Regions from separate parts of the Homo sapiens genome. Here region 1 is linked to region 2. Evidence: fine-mapped expression QTL. Tissue or cell type: blood mononuclear cells. Region 2 holds a variant in brackets; the other region holds the start of a gene. All regions are shown on one strand. Distances are from middle to middle.

The links. PIP is the estimated chance that this variant, and not a neighbour inherited with it, causes the effect.
Region 1: CCDC77 starts here. The variant in region 2 is fine-mapped to the expression of CCDC77 in blood mononuclear cells (TOPMed, PIP 0.97).

The regions. Positions count from the first base shown.
Region 1 is chr12:396,765-407,388 of GRCh38, forward strand. CCDC77 (coiled-coil domain containing 77) reads left to right here and starts at 4,880. Exons shown (of 13, transcript NM_032358.4): 1 at 4,880-4,920; 2 at 8,747-8,800. LOC105369594 (a long non-coding RNA gene) reads right to left here and starts at 4,646. Exons shown (of 4, transcript XR_007063149.1): 1 at 4,554-4,646; 2 at 4,129-4,286. RefSeq lists enhancers at 4,404-4,723, 5,138-5,690, 10,079-10,373.
Region 2 is chr12:245,592-256,215 of GRCh38, forward strand. All of the region lies in intron 2 of SLC6A13 (solute carrier family 6 member 13), which reads right to left. It overlaps LOC102723544 (a long non-coding RNA gene), which reads right to left. Exons shown (of 3, transcript NR_120482.1): 3 at 7,851-8,156. Among named protein-coding and RNA genes, the nearest start is that of SLC6A13, 12 kb to the right of the region's middle. The variant T/G (reference allele first, on the strand shown) is at 5,919.

The sequences.
Region 1 (10,624 bases), 150 kb after region 2:
CAGGAGATGACCACATCAATTTCTTCTAATAGAGACAAATGGGGTCAGATAGCTGCAGTCTTTGAATGCCATACTACTGTCTGAACTTCATTCTCTAGTCTGTGGGGAGTCATCAAAGTTTATAAGCAGGAGTGTGACAGACCCGGAATTGAATTTTTTGGAGACAGAGTCTCGCTCTGTCACCCAGGCTGGAGTGCAACAGCGTGATCTCAGCTCACTGCAACCTCCACTTCCTGAGTTCAAGCAATTCGCCTGCCTCAGCCTCCTGAGTAGCTGGGATTACAGGCATGTGCCACATGTAACCACACCCAGCTAATTTTTGTATTTTTACTAGAGATGGGGCTCATGCCTGTAATCCCACCACTTTGGGAGGCTGAGGCGGGTGGATCACGAGGTCAGGAGTTCAAGACCAGCCTGGACAAAAATCACCTTTTATAGAATGGATTGGAGGCAAGAACACCCAGTTAGAAGCCTATGGTAATAGACCAAGTGAAAGGTAATAAGACACATAGTGGAAATAAATAGGAAGATATATATGAAGACAGGCTCACCATGACTTGATTTTTTAAAAATTGCAGGGGCTAAAAGAAAGGAAATAGACAAAAGATACCGAGCCGAGATGTTTGGGAAGATATTAATGTAATTAACAGAGAAAATCACAAGGGAGAAAAAAGCAGGTTTGGGAGTACAGGCATAACTTGGAGATATTGCAGGTTCAGTTCCAGACCACCATAATAAAGTGAATATCACCATAAAGCAAATTGCTCGAAATTTTCGGTTTCCTGGTACATAAAAAAAGCTATGTGTTTACACGATACTGTAGTCTAGTGCATTATTTCTAGTTTGCATTATTTCTTTAAAAAAATTTACATGCCTTAATTTAAAATGCTTTTTTTTTTTGAGACAGAGTCTTGCTCTGTCACCCAGGCTGGAGTGCAGTGGCGCGATCTCAGCTCACTGCAGCCTCTGCCTCCTGGGTTCAAGTGATTCTCCTGCCTCAGCCTCCCGAGCAGCTGGGACTACAGGCGCCCGCCACCACGCCCGGCTAATTTTTTGTATTTTTAGTAGAGATGGGGTTTCACTGTCTTAGCCAGGATGGTCTCCATCTCCTGACCTCGTGATCCGCCCGTCTCAGCCTCCTGCAGTGCTGGGATTACAGGCGTGAGCCACCGCGACTGGCCTTAAAATACTTTATTCTAAAAATGCTAATGATCGTCTAAGCCAAGTCATAATATTTTCACTGATGGAGGGTCTAGCCTTGATGTTGGGGGCTGCTGACTGATCATGGTGCTGATTGCTAAAGGCTGGGGTGGCTGTGGCAATTTCTTAAAATAAGACAACAATGAAGTTGTTTTCATTCTTCCTTTCATGATATTGATTGATTCTTCCTTTCATGAAAGATTTCTCTGTAGCATGCAATGCTGTTTGATAGCATTTTACCCATAGTAGAACTTCTTTCAAAGTTGAAGTCAATCCTCAAACCCTGCAACTGCTTTATCGACTAAGTTTATGGAATATTCTAAACCCTTTGTTGTCATTTTGGCAATGTTCACAGCATCTTCACCAGGAGTAGATTCCAGCTAAAGAAACCACTTTCTTTACTTATTCATAAGAAGCAACTCTTCATCCATAGTTTCATCATGAGATTGCAGCAATTCAGTCACATCTTCAGGTTCCACTTTTTTTTTTTTTTGAGACAGAATCTTGCTCTGTTGCCCAGGCTGGACTGCAGTGGCGCGATCTGGGCTCACTGCAACCTCTGCCTCCCGGGTTCAAGCGATTCTCCTGCCTCAGCCTCCCAAGGCTCCACTTCTAATTCTAGTTCTCTTGCTACTTCCACAGCATCTGCAGTTATTTCGTCCATGAAGTCTTGAACCCCCTCAAAGACATCCAAGAGGATTGGAATTAACTTCTTCCAAACTCCTGTTATTATTGATATTGACCTCCTCCCATAAGTCACAAATGTTCTTTTTAAAATTTTTTTATTAAATATATTTTTACTTTTTTTTTTTTGAGACACAGTCTTGCTCTGTCACTCAGGCTGGACTGCAGTGGCACAATCTCGGCTCACTGCAACCTTGGTCTCCCAGGCTCAAGCAATCCTCCCACCTCAGCCTCCCAAGTAGCCAGGTGCATGCCACCACTCCTGGCTAGTTTTTGTATTTTTTTATAGAGACAAGGTTTTCTATGTTGCCCAGGCTTGTCATGCACTCCTGAGCTTAAGTGATCCACCCACGTTGGCCTTCCAAAGTGCTGGGTTTACAGGTGTGAGACATCTCACCAAGCCAAGTCACAAATGATCTTAAGGACATCTAGAATGGTGGTGAGTCCTTTCCAGAAGGTTTTCGATTTACTTTGCCCAGATCCACCAGAGAAATCACTATGTCTGGCAGCTATAGCCTTATGAAATATTTTTTTTTTTTTGAGGCGGAGTTTCACTCTTGTTGCCCAAGCTGGAGTGCAATGGCACGATCTCAGTTCACTGAAACCTCCGCCTCCCAGGTTCAAGTGATTCTCCTGCCTCAGCCTCCTGAGTAGCTGGGATTACAGGCATGCGCCATCATGGCCAGCTAATTTTGTATTTCTAGTAGAAACGGGGGTTTCTCCATGTTGGCCAGGCTGGTCTCGATCTCCTGACCTGGTGATCCGCCCACCTCAGCCTCCCAAAGTGCTGGGATTACAGATGTGAGCCACCGTGCCCGGCCTGAAATATATTTCTTAATAAGACCTGAAAGTCAAAATGACTCCTTGATCCATGAGCTGCAGAATGTCTGTTGTGTTTGCAAGCATGAAAGCAACATTCATCTGTTTGCATACCTCCACCAGAGCTCTTGGGTGACCAGTTGCATTGTGAGTGAGAAGTAATATTTTGAAAGAAATCCTTTTTTTCCTGAGCAGTAGGACTTAAAATAAAACATACATAAAACGGTGAACTTAAAATACTCAGTTAACCATGCTATAAACATATATGCTGTCATCCAGGTTTTGTTGTTCCATTTATAGAGCACAGGCAGACTATATCTAACATAATTCTTAAGGGCTCTAGGATTTCAGGGATGTAAATGGGCACTGGCTTCAACTTAAAGTCACCAGTTGCATTAGCCCCTAACATGAGAGTCAGTCTGTTCTTAGAAGCTGTGAAGCCAGGTATTGACTTCTCTCTAGCTACAAAAGTACTACTTGGCATCTCCTTCCAATAAAAGGCTGGTTCATATATATCAAAAGTCTGTAGTTTAGTTTAGCCACCTTAATCAATTACCTTAGTTAGCTCTTCTGAATAACTTGCTGCGGCATCTACATCAGCACTTGCTGCTTCCACCTTGCACTTTTAAGTAACGGAAATAGCTCCTTTCCTTAAACCTCACGAACCAGCCTCCGCTATCTTCCACCTTTTCTTCTGCAGCTTCCTCACCTGTCTCAGCCTTCATTTTATTGAAGAGTTAGGACTTTGCTCCAGATTAGGCTTTGGCTTCAGGGAATGCTGTGGCTGGTTTGATCTTCTATCCAGACCACTCAAACTTTCTCTATATCAGCAATGTCTGTTTCACTTTCTTATCATTTTTGTGTTTACTGGAGTAGCACTTTTAATTTCCTTCAAAAACTTTTCCTTTGCATGCACAACTTGGCTAACTTTGGTGCAAGAAGACTGGCTTTCATCCTGTCTTGGCTTTCAACATGCCTTTTTCACTGAGCTTAATCATTTTCAGCTTTTTATTTAAAGTAAGAGATGTGTGACTCTTCCTTTCACTTGAACCCCCACTGTAGGATTGTTAATTGGTCTAATTTCAATATTGTTGTATCACAGGAATAAGGAGGCAAGAAGAGAGGGAGAAAGGCAGGGAGACTGCTGGTCTGTGGAGCAGTTAAAACATCCACAACATTTATGAATTAAGTTTGCCATCTTATATGGGCATGGTTCATGGTGCCCCTAAACAATTATAATAGTAATATAAAGGATAACAGATCAGCATAACATATACAATAATTATGAAAAAGTTTGAAATATTGTGAAAATTACCAAATGTGGTGCAGAGACACATAGTAAGCCTGTGCTGTAGGAAAAATGGCGCAGATAGATTTGGTTCCATGCAGAGTTGCCACAAACCTTACATTTGTAAAAACAGTTACCTGGGAAGCGCAATAAAGGAAAGTGCGAGCCTGTAGCAGATGCACGTTCCATTTAGACATCCTTAGGACTCACACCAGCGAAGGGCCCCAGCTTTTCCATACCAGTAGCTGTAATTCTGAGACGAAAGTGCTTTTCCCCCACCTTTACACCTTGCTTTCTGGAAAGATAAGACCATAATGGATTTTGAACTTGCTTTTATCATTAAAGCCCAGTGTCTTACATTTCTCCGGAAAAGGAAGCAGTGTTTGCTATGGAACAAATAGTAGAATTTTAATACATAGTCCCCTGACCGTAGAAACTGAACCTCAGGTCCTATCCTGGCTCTAGGCCACCCGGTCATGGAAGAAGAAACTTTTCTTAGAATCTTTATCTCTTGAGACAAGCTTGGAAATTACAACATATATGTACCATGAACGCGAAGTACCTGAGCTCAAAGCAGTTGAGCAATCTTAAGTGGGGGTGCCCGAAAGTGGTGCGTTCTGACCCCAAACGTCACACTACCCGTCCCTGGAGGAGCGGGTTGCAGCCCAGCTGCGTCGCCCCGCGCAGAGCTCCAGGCAGAAGAAAACTACATTTCCCAGAGACCTCTGCGCGGTCGGGAGCACCGCGAGGAGGGGCGAGATGGGGGCGGGCCTCTGTGTGAAGGCCCTTCCCATTGGTGCGCATTCCAAAGGGCCATGTAAACTTCTTCGCGATTGCACGGATTCAGGGACGCTCAGTGGCGCCGCGCCGCTCCTTGGTTTGACTTTTGTTTTTCAGTTGCGTTCCCTGACTCGGAGTCTTAGTGTGTCGTGAGTATAGAGTTTCGGGTTTGGGGTGAAGGGGTTAGGTAAGAAGCCTTGGGAAGAAAATCTGGTTAGGGAGAAGTAACTGCGGAAGCAGTGCGGAGGAGAGGACGTGAGCCTGAATGTGGTGTCCGTGGAGGGGCTGGGGACCGGAGGAGGAAAGCTCCAATGTGCAAAGGGAGAGACCTCAGGAGTGCTGGAGCGTTGGGACCTGGAGCAGTGAGGCGGTCGAGAATGGGATGAAGTGGGAAAAGGAGTACGGGATTCGGGCGCCCTGGAGATGCGTTCCGGTGTACTCTAACCCCACGCTGGTCTAGCTCTCAGTTTCCTCATTTGTGAAATAAGGGATAGTGAAAATACTGAACGGTTGTTGGGATAATAAATTGTACAGATTTGTCACGTGGCTAAAAGAAAAAAATTCAAAGTGCTACACAAATGTTAATTGTTAGTAGACAAGCTATAAGAATATATCTAAGCAAGGGTATTGGAGATAGGTGCAGAGACCCTAGCTGAAACCCGTTAATTTACCTATAAACAAAGGCATTGTTCCTTTGGAAGAGGCAATGAAGAGTAAGACGCGATTTCTGTCTGTAGGGAGCGCACGCTAGCATGGGAGAAACGATAGCAATAAAGCACTCTAATATGTTGACTTGTAGATAATTTCAAAGGCAGTTCTTTTGCACTTAGATCATTTTTGCTAAATCATTTTGGATGGGGAGACTCAGGAAAGAGAAAAAGGAGGTGGTATTTAAGATGAGTTTTCATGTACAGACTAGATTTTGTTAAGTGAAATTATGAGGGTTGTGGAGGGAGTTGTGTTCCAGCTAGAGGGAAGCTCATGAACAAAGGTATGGAGGCAGGAAAGTTATCTGGAAACGGTACATTTAGGAGAGTAGAGAGAAATAAGGCAGGAAAGTTAGGTTTGGCCCTTATGTAGAAAGCCATGAATTCTAGGCTAACAAATTGGATTTAATGCTTTAGGCTATGAGGTGCTACTGATGTATTTTATTAAAGAAAATGGTCCAGGAGACGCAAGGAGTAGGTAGAACCGTTAAGGTGTTGTAATGGTGTGGGTAAGAAGTATTGAGACTCTGAATTAACATGGTCATTGTGGAGATAAAATATACAAGATATTCATATGGTTAGACAGGAGGTTCAGAAGAATGAGTGATCAAATGATGAATTTAAGTTGCCAACTCCCGGTTGCTTGGAAACGCTGAATTAGTAACTAAAATAGGAAAGTCAGAAGGGGCATGTTTGGATAAAAAGATGATGTGTTAGGTTTAGGAAATGTTAGCTTTGAGATGCTAAAAAAATACCTAACTTGAGTGATTTCTTTTTTAAGTTAAACGTTTCAAGTGCCAGTGGGACTATGGGTGAAAATGTCCACTACATTTTTGTTAATTCAAATCAAGAGGTTGAAAGAGATGTCGTTTATTTATTCAACATGTAATTGTTACTTACTGTATGCCATGTAGTGTTTTAGATGACAGAGTTAATAATAAAAACAGGAGGAATAATGATGTTCCCAAAGAAATGGTTAGAGGAAATGATAAAGAAACTTGAAGACAGAACCTCTGAGCCAAGGGAGTAAAATTGTCAATAATAATAATAGTCCACATTTACTGAGTGCTTATATATGTGTCAAACACTGTCCCTCGGCCTTATATCCGTACACCAACCTATGACATAGAAGTAACTGAAATTTAGAGAGGATAACTTGCCTGAGGTACACAGCTAATAAGAGGCAGGGCTTTGACTCAAACCCAAGTCTGATATCAGAGCCCACATTCTCAACTACAAAGCAATATTTATTTTTATTATTATTTTTTCCAGGTAAGGTCTCACTCTGTCACCTAGGCTGGAGAGCAGTGGGGCAATCTCAGCTCAGTGCAGCCTCTGCCTCCCAAGCTCAAGCAATCCTCTGCCTCAGCCTCCTGAATAGCTGGGACTACAGGCACGTGCCACCACTCCCAGCTAATTCTGTAATTTTTGTAGAGACAGGGTTTCACCATGTTGCCCAGGCTGGTCTCAAACTCCTGACCTCCAGCAGTCCATTCACCTTGGCCTCCCAAAGTGCTGGCATTACAGGCATGAGCCACTGTGCCCAGCCTATTTTAATTGTTTTTTGAGACAGGGTCTTGCGCTGTTGTCCAGGCTAGAGTGCAGTGGCACGATCACTGCTCGCTGCAGCCTTGAACCCTCAGGCTGAAGTGATCCTCGCACCAAGCAGGTGGGACTACATTGCCACTGTGCCCAGCTAATTTTTAAAATTTTGGTAAAGACAGGGTCTTGCCATGGCCTGGCCATGCCAAGGTCCGGTCCCAAAGTGATATATTTTTAAAGGGTAGTTGGCACTACCAGGCACAGTGGCTCACGCCTGTAATCCCAACACTGGCAGGCAGAGGTGGGTGGATCATCTGAGGTCAGGAGTTCGAGACCAGCCTGGCCAACATGGCGAAACCCTGTCTTTACTAAAAATACAAAAAAAATTAGCCACAGTGGCAGGTGCCTGTAATCCCAGCCACTGGGGAGGCTGAGGCAGGAGAATCACTTGAACCCAGGAGGTGGAGGTTGCAGTGAGCCAAGATCGTGCCACTGCACTCCAGCCTGGGCTGAACAGAGTGAGACTCTGTCTCAAAAAATAAATAAATAAATAGGTAGTTGGCACTATCTAATTAAGAATACAAGTGAAGGAGTAACTATTGGATGGAGGAGGATAGAAACAGAAAAGAGCAATTGAATTTATTAATTTGGATGTCTGCTGACCAATAAGAGCTTGGTTAGATGTCATAGTAGAAGCCCGAGGCCTGGCTCAGTGGCTCATGCCTGTAATCTCAGCACTTTGGAAGGCCAAGGGAGGAGGATTGTTTGAGTCCGGGAGTTCAAGGCCAGCCTGGGCAACATAGCAAGGCCCCGTCTTGCAGCCAGAGAGGTGAGTGTAGACAACTTTTCGTAGACATGTGCAACAGTGAGGACAGTCACTATGAAGGAGAAGAGGGATTGCAGGTTGTTAGAAGGGTCTTTCAAAGCTTCAAATTACTTTTTTTTTTTTTTTTTTGAGACGGAGTTTCGCTCTTGTTGCCCAGGCTGGAGTGTAATGGCGCGATCTTGGCTCACCACAACCTCCGCCTCCCAGGTTCAAGCAATTCTCCTGCCTCAGTCTCCTGAGTAGGTGGGATTATAGGGATGCACCACCATGCCCAGCTAACTTTGTATTTTTAGTAGAGATGGGGTTTCTCCAGGTTGGTCAGGCTGGTCTTGAATTCCTGACCTCAGGTGATCCGCCTTCCTCGGCCTCCCAAAGTGCTGGGATTACAGGCAGGAGCCACTGTGCCCAGCCGCTTCAAATTACTCTTAAATGGCTTTGAAACAGTGAAATTTAACTTTAAGTTGTCACCCATATCCGTACAATGGAATTTTATTCAGCCACAAAAAGGAATGAAGTACTGATACATGGTACCACATAGGTGAACCTTGAAAACATTATGCTAAGTGAAACAAGACAGTCACAAAAGACCATATACTATGTGATTCCATTTATAGGAAAGTCCAGAATAGGGAAATCTGTAGAGACAGTAGGTTAGTGGTTGCTTAGGACTGGGAGACAGGGATAATAGCTGAAGGACACAGGGTTTTTTTCTTGAAGTGACGAAACTTCTAGAATGGACTGTGCTGATAGGTACACGTATCTGTGAATATACTAAAAATCATTGAATTTACACTTTGAATGAGTTTAATGGTGTACACAAATTACATTCCATAAAGCTGCTTTTTTAAAAAAATGTTACCCATAATCCTTCCATGCCAATCCAATAACTTTATTTTCTAGGTTATTTGGACAAGAGGCACATTGACCCAATTTGGAGACGTATTTTGGAAGGAGGTGAGTTTGGAGGAGGAGAGTAGTCTTTTAAAGGAGAGAATTAGAAGAAAGATGGCGTATTTGAAGGGTTGGCTGTAGAAGAAAACAAATGGGATGAGAGAAGCAGAAACAGATTTTTAAATCTAGATTGAATAGACTGGCCAGCAGAAGAAAAGGATGTTTAACAGTCTTTCAAATTCATATTGAGAGTTGTATATATATACATATACACTTAGTATGAGCCAGGCACTGTTTATGTTACTAGGGATACAGCAGTGAACATAATAGATAAAAACCCGCTGCCTTTAGTGAGTTTGCATATTCCAGTGTGGAGAGACAGACATTAAATATTAGATGGTTATAAGTGTTCAACTTTTTTTTTTTTTTTTTTTTAAGAGAGGGTCTCACTCTGTCACCCCAGCTGGACTGCAATGGCGTGATCATGGCTCACTGCAGCCTTGATCCCCCGGTGCAGGCGATCCTCCTACCTCGGCCTCCTGTTTAACTAGGACTACAGACATGTGCCACCACATCTGGCTAATTTTTTGTAGAGACAGGGTTTTGCCATGTTGCCCAGGCTGGTCTCAAACTCCTGGACTCAAGCAGTCTATCCGCCTTGGCCTCCCAAAGTGCTGAGATTACAGGCGTGAGCCACTTCAACTAGCCAAGGTTGTAAGTGTTAATGGAGAAAAGTAAAACAGAGAAGAGGGATGAGGTTGGTAGAGTGGTCAGGGAAGACTTCATCAAGAAAGTGACATTTTAGCCCTGAAGGAGGAGAGGGAGTAAGCCACATAGATAAATGGGGAAAGAACATCATAGCAAAGAGAACTGTAGGTACGGGGACTCTGAAGTAGAAGTGTGCCTGGCACGTTTGAAGAACAGCCAAGAGGCCGGTGTTTTTACCGCAGTGAACAAGGATAAGAGTAGTAGGTGAGGTCACAGAAGTAATGAGGTTGGCCAGATCATACAGGACCTTGTCGGCAATTTTAAAGACCTTGACCCTCTGAGTAAGATGAAAAGTCATTGGAGGCTTTTGGGCAGAGGAGTTTTGTGTTTTGACACATATATATTAATGTGTTGAGAATACATTATAAGGGATGAGGTTGAAAATGGAACAGGGGGACCAGGCGTGGTGACTCATGCCTGTAATCCCAGCACTTTGGGAGGCCAAGGCAGGTGGATCACCTGAGGTCAGGAGTTCAAGACCAGCCTGGCCAACATGGTGAAACCCCGTCTCTACTAAAAATACAAAAATTAGCCAGGCTTGGTGGTATGTGCCTGTCTTCCCAGCCACTCGGGAGGCTGAGACAGGAGAATCACTTGAATCCTGGAGGCAGAGGTTGCAGTGAGCCGAGATTGCGCCATCGCACTCCAGCTTGGATGACACAGCAAGACTTTGTCTCACACACACAAAAGTGGAACGAGGAGACCAGTTAAGAGACCGTTGTCGTCATCTGGGCAACAGATAGCAGTGGGTTGGAAGCCAAGCGCAGTGACTCATGCCTATAATCCTATTACTTGTGTGGCTGAGGGGAGAGGATTGAGTGAAGCCAGGAGTTTGAGACAAGCCTAGGCAGCAAAGCAAGACCCTGTATCTAAAACAACAAAAGCAAAAACAGTGGACTGGACCAGGGCAATGAGGGCATAGGTGATAAGTAGTTGTCAGATTCTAGATATTTGGATGAGCTAGCCAGTAGGATTTGCTAATGGGTCGTGTGTGGCATGTAAGACAAAGAGAGGAGTAAAATTTCTTAAACCAAGTTTGTCTGTTTGTCATAAACAACTGGCAGCATAGAATTAGTATTTATTGGAATGTAGAATTCTGAGAGAAGAGCAGGTTTTTGT
Region 2 (10,624 bases):
ATTGCTTGAACCTGGGAGGCAGAGGTTGCAGTGAGCCGAGATCGTGCCACTGCACTCCAGCCTGGGCAACAGAGTGGGACTCTGTCGCAAAAAAAAAAGAAAGAAAGAAAAGGCAGGGTGTGGTGGATTACGCCTGTAATCCCAGCACTCTGGGAGGCCAAGGCAGGCAGATCACGAGGTCAAGAGATCGAGACCATCCTGGCCAACATGGTGAAACCCCATCTCTAGTAAAAATACAAAAATTAGCTGGGCGCGGTGGCTCAAGCCTGTAATCCCAGCACTTTGGGAGGCTGAGGCAGGTGGATCATGAGGTCAGGAGATCGAGACCATCCTGGCTAACACAGTGAAACCCCATCTCTACTAAAAATACAAAAAAATTAGCCGGGTGTGGTGGTGGGTGCCTATAGTCCCAGCTACTTGGGAGGCTGAGGAAGGAGAATGGCGTGAACCCAGGAGGCGGAGGTTGCAGTGAGCCGAGATTGTGCCACTGCAATCCAGCCTGGGTGACAGAGCAAGACTCCATCTCAAAAAATAAAAGTAAAAATAAATAAATAAATAAATAAATAAAATACAAAAATTAGCTGGGCATGGTGGCATGTGCCTGTGGTCCCAGCTACTTGGGAGGCTGAACCAGGAGAATTGCTTGAACCCGGGAGATGGAGGTTGCAGTGAACCGAGATCGCTCCACTGCACTCCAGCCTGGCAACAGAGTGAGACTCTGTCTCAAAAATAAATAAATAAATAAATAAATTATCCAGCAACCCATAAAGCAAAAATATTACCAGGTCTGGTATTCAATCGAAAATTACCAGGAAAGCAAAGAATCAGGAAAATGTTACTCATAGCAAGGAGATTGAACCTGACCCATAATTTACAAAGATGTTAGAATTAGCAGATGAGAATATTTAAAAGTTATTATAACTGTATTGCAAGTGTTCCAAAAGTTAGGGATATAAAAGATATTGAAAAAGACCCAAATAAAACTTCTGAACATGAACACTACAGTGTGTGAGATTTAAAGAAATACATTGGATGGGATTAATGTTAGTAGGCAGAGCAGAAGAAAAGATCAGTGACCTTGAACCATAATAGAAACTATCTAAAATAAAACACAGAGAGAAAAAAGAACATTTTTGCTGGGCATGGTAGTTCATGCCTGTAATCCCCGCATTTTGGGAAGCCGAGGCAGGTGGATCACCTGAGGTCAGGAGTTCAAGACCAGCCCAGCCAACATGGTGAAACCCTGTCTCTACTAAAAGTACAAAAATTAGCTGGGTGTGGTGGTGCATGCCTGTAATTCCAGCTACTTGGGAGGCTGAGGCAGGAGAATCACTTGAACCTGGGAGGTGGAGGTTGCAGTGAGCTGAGATCATACCACTGCACTCCAGCCTGGGTGACAGAGTGAGACTCCATCTCAAAAAAAAAAAAAAAGAAAGAAAGAAAAGAAAGAAAGAAAAGAAAAAAGAAATTTTTTAAAAAGAACAGGTATGCCTAAGTGGTGAGACAGCTTCAAAAAGCCTAATGTAATGGGAGTCTGTGAAAGAAAGAAAAGGGTGAGAAAAAGCTTACAGAAATAATAGCTGAAAATTTTACAAATTTTATGAAAACTATAAACCTATAGATCCAAAAAGTTCAACAAACACCAAGATTAAAAAAAAAATGAAAAAAAACTAGTCCAAGGTGCATCATAATCACATTACTTAAACCGGAATATGGAGCTTTTAAGAGAAAACCTTAAAAGTCACCAGAGAAAAACGACACATATGTACAGACAAAGATAAGAATAACATCAAATTTCTCATTTAAAACAATGCAAAAGAGAAGACAGTGATAAGGAAGCACATTTGCTGAAGCAATAAAGGAGGAGGGAGAAAGCTGTCAACCCGGAATTCTATACCCAGCAATAATACTGTTCAAAAAGGAAAGTGAAATAACTGTTTCTTAAGACATGCAAAACCTGAAAGGATCTACCACAAGTAGAACTGAACTACCAGAAATGTGGAAGAAACTCCTTCAGGGAGAATGAAATGATATCACCAGATAGAAATATGAATCTATACAAAGTAATAAAAAGCTTTAGAAATAGTAATTACATAGATAAACATAGAGAATGTTTTTCTTATTATTCAAATATTTTTTAAAAGATAATTGACTGGTTAAACAAAAATAAAAACAATGTAATATTGATTTTATAACATATAAAAATGTATAAGAAGAGCACAAAGGTTAGGAGGAAAGAAATGAAATTGTAATATTTTAAGGTTCTTATATATAAAGTGGTACATTATCACTTGAAGATAAAGTGTGATAAGTTAAAGATGTATACTACAAAGTTTAAAACAATCAGTAAAATAACACAACAAAGTTACAGCTAATAAGCCAACAAAAAGAAGAAAGCTAACAATGGAATAAGAAAAAATATTCAATTATTCCAAAAAAAAAGCAGGAGGAGAGGGAAGGGGGAAACAAATAACTGATAGGACAAAGAGAAAACAAATAATAGGATGATAGAGTTAAACCTAATTACATGGATAATCGTATTAAATGCAAATGGTCTAAACGTCCCAAATAAAAGGCAGAGATTGTTAGACTGGCTTTTAAAACCTGACAAGACTCAACTATATGCTGCCTTAAGAAAATGCACTTTGAATAAAAAAGACATGAAGAGGTTAAAAGTAAAAGGATAGAAAGATATACCATGCTGGGAGGCTGAGGCAGGAGAAATGGAGTGAACCCCGGGGGGCGGAGCATGCAGTGAGCCGAGGTTGCACCACTGCACTCCAGCCTAGGCGACAGCAAGACTCCGTCTCGGAAAAAAAAAAAAAAAAAAAAAGATATACCATGCTAACACTACTCAAAATAAATCTGTAAAGTTTATCTTAATGTCACACAAAGTAAACTTCAGAGCAAAGAATATTACCAAGGGTAAAGAAGGTAATTTCATAATGATTAAAGGGTCAATTAATCAAGAGGGTCAATTAATCAATCAGTATTTCAAGTGCATATTCACCTAATGACAGAGCTTCAAAATGCACGAAGCAAAAACTGACAGAACTACAAAGAGAAACATATAAACTAATTCCTGATAAATGTTAAAAACGTTAATAGCCCTCTCTCAATAATTTATAGAATAAGTATACAGAAAATCAGTATGGATATAACAGATTTGAAAATTATATCCACCAGCTCAACTTAGTTGACATTTATTGAACATTCTACCCAACAGTCCAACAGCAGAATATGCATTAGTTTCAAATGAACATGGAATATTCCACCAAGATGGGCCCATATCCTGGACCAGAGATCAAATCTCAGTAAGTTTAAAAGCATCCAAGTAATACAAAATTGGTTCTCTGACTAAATTAGAAATCTATCAGAGAAAGACATTTGGAAAATTGCCACCTATTTGGAAATTAGGTAACACATTTCTAAATAGCCTATGGCTCTACTGAAGTAATCAAAAGAGAAATTAGAAAGTATCTTGAATGGAATGAAATGAAACCCAGTATCATAATTTGTGGCATACTGCTAAAGCAGTACCTAGGAGATTTACTAAATGATAAAAGAAGAAAAGTTTCAAATCAATTACCTCGGCTTCCACCTTAAGAAATCAGAAATTATTGCTGAAATGAGGGTGTAGTTAAGAAAAAAAGAAAGAAAGAAATGAGAAGGATAAGAGCAAATGAAAGCCAAAGTAAGTCAAAGGAAATAAAAATCAGAGTGGAAATCAATAAAATGGAAAACAGGAAAGCAACAGAGAAAATCCATGAACCAAAAGCTGGTTCTTTGAGATAATAAAATTGATAAAATTTTAGAAGACACAAATTATCAGCATGACAAATGAGATGTATCCTCAGTAAAGATTCTATAGATATTAAAACAATAATAAGAAAAGATATGAAGAACTTTATGCCAGTAAGTGCAACAATTTAGGTAAAATAAAAAACGTAACTACCAAAGCCCACTCAAAAAGAAACAGTCTGAATAGCCCTATAACTATTAAGGAAAATTCATTTTTGGTTTAAACCCATCCCACAAAAATTTCCAGGCTCAAATGACTTCAGTGGTGAATCCTCCAAATATTTAAGGAAGAAATAACAGCAATTCTACACAAACTCTTCCAAAAAATTGAAAAGATGGAATGCTTACCCAACCAATTTTATAAAGTGAGCATTACCCTGATAATAAAAGCAGACAAATACATTATAAGAAAAGAAAGTTAAAGATCAACATATTTCATGAACATAAATGCCAAAATTCTAAATGATTTTAGGAAATCAAATCTAACAATATGTTAATAGGACAATATATTATATAGTAATGTTTATCCCAGAGATACAAAGTGGGTTTAACATTTTAAAAAATCAACATAGTGTTGTAGTCTCCAGCTGTTATAATAAATGGATAAATAAATAATGTGACTCATCCTGTTAACAAATTACAAAAGAAAAACTATATGATCATTTCATAGGTACAGTAAAGTATTTGACTGAATCCAACAGTCATTCCTAATAAAAACTCCCAGCAATGATGAGGAGAAGAGAACTTCCTCAACTTGATAGAGGGCATCTACAAAAAAACCCTACAGCTAACATCATACTTAATTGTAAAAGACTGCTAAGATTGAGAATAAAACAAGTGTCTATTCTTACTACTTCTATTCAATACTGTACTGGGGATTCTAGCCATAGAATCTAGCCAATAAGGCAAGATAAGGAATTAAAGGTTATTCCGATTTAAAAGGAAAAAATAACACTGCTTTATTCTCAGAAGACATGATATTCTACAATGAAAATCCTTTGGAATGCACACAAAAAAAAACCTATTAGAACCAATCAGTGAGTTTAGCAAGTTTGCAGGATACAGGATGGGCATACACAAATCAATTGTGTATGTATTAGGAATAAACAACCATAAATTAAAATGTAGGAAATAATACCATTTACAATAGCATCAAAAATATTAAATACTTAGGAATAAATCTGACAAAAGTTGTGAAAGATATATGTACACTCACAACTACAAAACATTGCTGAGAGAAATTAATGAAGAGCTAAATAAATGGAGAGTCATACCATATTCAGGATCAGAAGACTTAATATCATTAAAATGTCAATTCTTTCCAAATTGATCTATAGATTTAATACAATCCTAATCAAAAGCACAACAGACTTTTTTGTAGAAATTCACAAATTCTTTCTAAAATTCATCTGGAAATGATAAGGACCCAAAATAGCCCCCCAAAAAAAAAAAAAAAAAAACCTAAAAACAGGGCCTGGCGCAGTGGCTCATTTCTTTTTGGGAGGCATTTTGGGAGCATTCTGGGAGGCCAAGGTGGGTGGATCACGAGGTCAGGAGATCGAGACCATCCTGGCCAACACGGTGAAACCCTGTCTCTACTAAAAATACAAAAAATTAGCCGGGCATGGTGGTGGGCACCTGTAGTCCCAGCTACTCGCGAGGCTGAGGCAGGAGAATTGCGTGAACCCGGGAGGCGGAGCTTGCAATGAGCTGAGATCGCGCCACTGCACTCCAGCCTGGGCAACAGAGCAAGACTCTGTCTCAAAAAAAAACAAAAAAAAAAAACCTTTGAAAAAGAAGAACTGAAGTACTTAATTCCACCTGGTATTTATATTATCCTCAAGCACAGTAATGAACACAGTGTGGTACTGGTGTCAAAATAAACAGATCAATGGAACAGAGTAGAATTCATCAACAGACCCACATATATACAAATAACTCATTTTTGATGAAGGTATAAAGGCAATTCATTGGAAATAGGATAGTCTTTTCAACAAATGGTGCTGGCATAAGTGAATACCCATACAACCCCCCAGAAATGAACTTCAACCCATATCTTCACTGTATACAAAAATTAAGCCAAAATGAAACATAGAGCTAAATGTCAAACCTAAAAC[T/G]ATACATCTTCTAGAAGAAAATATGAGGCCTTGGGTTAGGCAAAGATCTCTTTATATGATATCAAAAGTATGGTTTATAAAATAAATAATTTATAAACCAGACATCATAAAAATTTAAAACGCCTTCTCTTCTAAAGACACTGTTAGAAACAGGAAAAACAGTCCAGGTGCAGTGGCTCACGCCTGTAATCCCAGCACTTTGGGAGGCCAAGGCTGGAGGATCGCTTGAGCCCAGGAGTTTGAGATCAGCCTAGGCAACATAGTGAGACCTCGTCTCTACCAAAAAAAAAAAAAGTTTTTAATTTTCCGGGCATGGTGGCACATGCCTATAGTCGCAGCTACTTTTGGGAGGCTGTGGTGGGAAGATCATTTGAGCTCAGAAGGTCAAGGATGCAGTGAGCCGTGACTGCACCATTGCACTGCACCATTGCACTTCGGCCTGGGTGACAGAGTGAGATCCCATCTCAAAAAAAAGAAAAGGAAAATTACAAAACACAGAATGAAAAAAATAGTATTTGTAAAATGCATTTCTGATAAAGGACTTGTGTGTTAGAATATATGAAGATACCTCGATAACAAAGGATAAACTACTGATACATGAAAACTATAAATGAAACCCTAAATAATTATGCTGTATCATAATTATCAACATACCATATGATTCCATTTATATAATATTCTAAGAAACGCAAACTAAGGTATGGTGGTATCACAATTTTCATAATTATCAACACACTGTATGATTCCATCTATATAATATTCTAAGAAAAACAAACTAGTTTAGTTTGCATTTAGCATAATTATTGATTGCACTGGGATGTGATGGCAGGAGTGAAGTTGGGAGGAAGGAATTAGAAAGAGACAGGAGTAACTGTTTTGGAAGTGATGGACATGTTTACTATCTCAATTGTGGCAGTGGTTTCATGCGTATATACATATGTCAAAATTTATCAAATTGTACACTTTAACTATGTGTGGTTTATTGTAAGTTAATGAGGAACCCAGTTCTCCAGTTCTTCACCTCCCACTTCTCAAGGTTGTATTCTACACATCCATAATTCAGGCACTAAGGGGGACTTGATCATGAGGACAAAGAAGGAAAGGTAGCAAACAATTCAGCCAAAGAAGTCCATAAATCAACCCAAGGTTTGCTGAGCAGGAAGGAAAACAGGAAAGATAGAACCCAGCAGCTGACAGGAACAGTCACTGTGGAGAGCCCAGTCCAGAAAGAAACAGCTATGGGCCCAGCCCAAGCCCCTTCCCATATTCATGCTTCCTGCTCTTTCTCTATAAACCAAGCCAATGTTTAACTCTGGGCCCCGTGGTCAGCTGCTCCCACCTCCTTCCTCTGCCTCGTTGAGCTCCTTGGCAGCCTGCCAAGAGGGACAAAGTCCACACCTGCAAGGAGGGGCTACAGGCCCTAGAAGTGTGAGAGGGGTCGGGGTGGGAGGGAGCCAAGGGGGCCAGGTACGGACTGAGGAGTGCTGAAGGGCATTCTGCCTCTTCCCCTCCGCAGGTACCACCATCAAAAGATGAAGTTAGTCCTGGGGATGGGGGGTGGAGTTCACAGTAACCTGCACCCCCATATCATCCATACTAGTCTCCTCAAAAATTCTAAAATGTGCTGGCATTTTCTCCGTGAGATAGGAGAGACCATATCCCCGTCCCAGAAAGCAATCACTCTCTTGGCCCCCCTTCTCAAAAGGAGCACGCTCTGTGGTGTCACTTGTAACGTTCCAGCCAATTTCTTACGGCATAAACTGACGATCTTCCACTTGAGCAACAGAAGAGCGAGGAGCTTCCATGAGGAGTTATGTGCTGTCCTCGGCATGAGCCTGACCAACAGTGGGCCCTGAGTCATTAACTACACTTGGTAACACACTGTCACTCACTGCTAAATTAACCATTACTTTTATATGAACACACGAACAGTGCTTCTTATTTCTCTTTATTCTCTGCTATCTATAAACAGCACAGGGCTAATGGTTTTCCTTGCTGCCAAGGGAATCCTCTTTGTGTGGGCATCCCAGTGCACCTTCTTTACAGGCTGGAGCTGAGGGATCTTTCCCCTCCAGGCCCTTCTGAGAGGTCCTGCTGTGTGCCTCCTGTCGTGGCCTCACATGGGGACTCCAGTCCCAAGTTAATTCTGGGTGTTGAGCAACTTGGTCTGCCAGCAGCCAGGGTCCAGGCAGTTGGAGAGGTCTCAGCTGAAGGCCCGTGTTCTGAAGCACCCAGGACCTAGGTATGGGAAGACTGAGGCTCTGAAGAGGAGTTGGAGGGGACAGGGAGGAAGTCCTCGCAAAAGATGGTCTCCAGCTGGTGTCCTGAGACTAGTGGAAAACTTAAAAGGTTCTTGGCACGGGTAACTTCTGCCCCGAGTGAAATTTCAGCAACCTGGACTTAGAAATTAAGTGAAAATGTTGGCAGACGGTTTTTTCATCTGGGCTGAGATAGGCAGGAAGGTGATTTAAATTCCCCGCTGGCTATGGACAGTCCTATGACCAGAACCCTCTCCCGCTACCTTCTTCCCACATCACGCCTCCTGCGTTATCCAGCATCTCCTCGTCCCATGACTGGAACTTTAACTGGGCAGGCCCTAGTAGAAAATCGTATTTGCTTTCCCTCCTGGCAGCTGAGGGTGGAGGGCTGGAGGAATAGTTCAAATGTCAAGCTTCTTCAGCCGCCTCGCCAGCTCAGGGCCCCACCCCCGAGGAGTCTGGCCACTGGCACACTGTCACTGCTACGCAGGACTCACATGGCCCCCTTCCGCCCAGAAGGGAAATACACAAGGAAGGGGTGGATTTTACCTACTCCCACATTTTGCCCCAATAACCCACATTTACTATTTCCAATTCCTTTCTCCCATCTCCCCCATTATCTTAAATCCATTTCAATCAGTCATTGTCCCCAGCCCTCCACTGTAACCGCTCTTATCATCAATGACTTCCCAGCTGCTAAAACCAACAATCAATTTCCTTTCCTCATCTTCTTAACCTATCTGCAGCCTTTGCTGCAGTTAATTTCTCCCTCCTCCCTGATAGAATTTCTTCACTCGACTTTCCAAAACACTTCATTCTCTTGGTTTTCATCCTGCTTTACCAGTTTCTCATTTTCTGTCTCCTCTGCTGGTTTCCCATCTTCTCCCAGACCCACTAAAGGTCCTTACTTTCTTTTCTTATACCATCAAAATGCTAATGATCCCCAAATACACACCTCCAGCCAGATCTCTCTCACAAACCCCAAACTCACATTCTATTGCCCAGTTGCCATTTCCACATGGACATCTGATAGATACCTCAACTCAACTTTCCCAAAATTCACCTCCTTACTTTCCCTTCAAAACCTGCTCCTCTGGGGCTAGGCACAGTGGCTTATGCCTGTAATCCCAGCACTTTGGGAGGCCGAGGCAGGCAGATCACTTGAGACCAGGAGTTTGAGACCAGCCTGGCCAACATGGCGAAACCCCCTCTCTATTAAAAACAACAACAACAACAAAACAAAACACAAAACCTTGCTCCCTTCATGGCCTTCCACGTCTCAGTGAATGGCAGCTCCTTCCTTCCAGTCACTCAGGTGAAAACTCTCGGATTGCTTAGATGGGTGCTAGCAGTGGAGGGGATGAGAAGTGGTCGGGTCCTGCACATCTCATCGCGGGGGCTCTAGTCCCAGGCATTCGGGTGCTGAGCTACTCGCTCTGCCAGCAACCAGGGTCCAGGGAGCTGGAGAGGTCCTGAAGCTCCCAGGACCTGGGTGTTTGGGTAGAGTCAAGAGCTATGAGAGGTGGAGGAAATTAAGGATGACTCCAAGATTTTTGCCTTATAACCAGTCAGCTTCTGCCTTCACTCCCCTATACTCAGTTCTCAACATACCAGCTAGAGAGATTATTTTAAAATGTAAGATGACTGTCCGGGCGCAGTGGCTCATGCCTGTAATCCCAGCACTTTGGGAGGCCAAGGTGGGCAGATCACCTGAAGTCAGGAGTTCGAGACCAGCCTGGCCAACACGGCAAAACCTCGTCTCAACTAAAAATACAGAAATTGGCCGCGCGTGTTGGCGCGCGCCTGTAGTCCCAGCTACTGGGGAGGCTGAGGCGGGAGAATCACTTGAACCCAGTAGGTAGAGGTTGCAGTGAGCTGAGATTACGCCACTGCACTCCAGCCTGGGTGACAGAGCGAGACTCCATCTTGGAGGGGGCGGAAATAATGTGAGATTACTGCTGCCCAAAACCCTGCCCTGCATCTGAATGTCACTAGAGCAAAAGCTGAAGTCTGAGAGTGGCCAACCTGACATACCTGATCTGCCCCTCTCCCTGTCCCCAGCCCATTTACTTCCCTGACCTTACCTTCTATTCACTTGCCCAGCTCCAGGCTTGAGTCCTCCTCAAACAAGCCAGCCAGACTCTTGCTTCGTTTCAACCTTTGTTTCCTCTGCCTAGAGGAAAGCACTTTCACCCAACCCCATAATATCCACATGGCCAGTTCTCTCACTCCTGGCAAGGCTTTGCTCACATGCTCTCAATGACCACCCTTTTAAAAATTGCCACCACCCACACCCACACTCCTGATCCCCTTTACCCAGCTCTCCTTGTTCTTTTTCTATAGCACTCATTAATTCTGGAATGCTACCTAATTTACTCATTTATCCCATTTATTGTGTAGTGTCTGTCTCCCTCCTCTAGAATGTATGCCCTATGAGGACAGGGAATT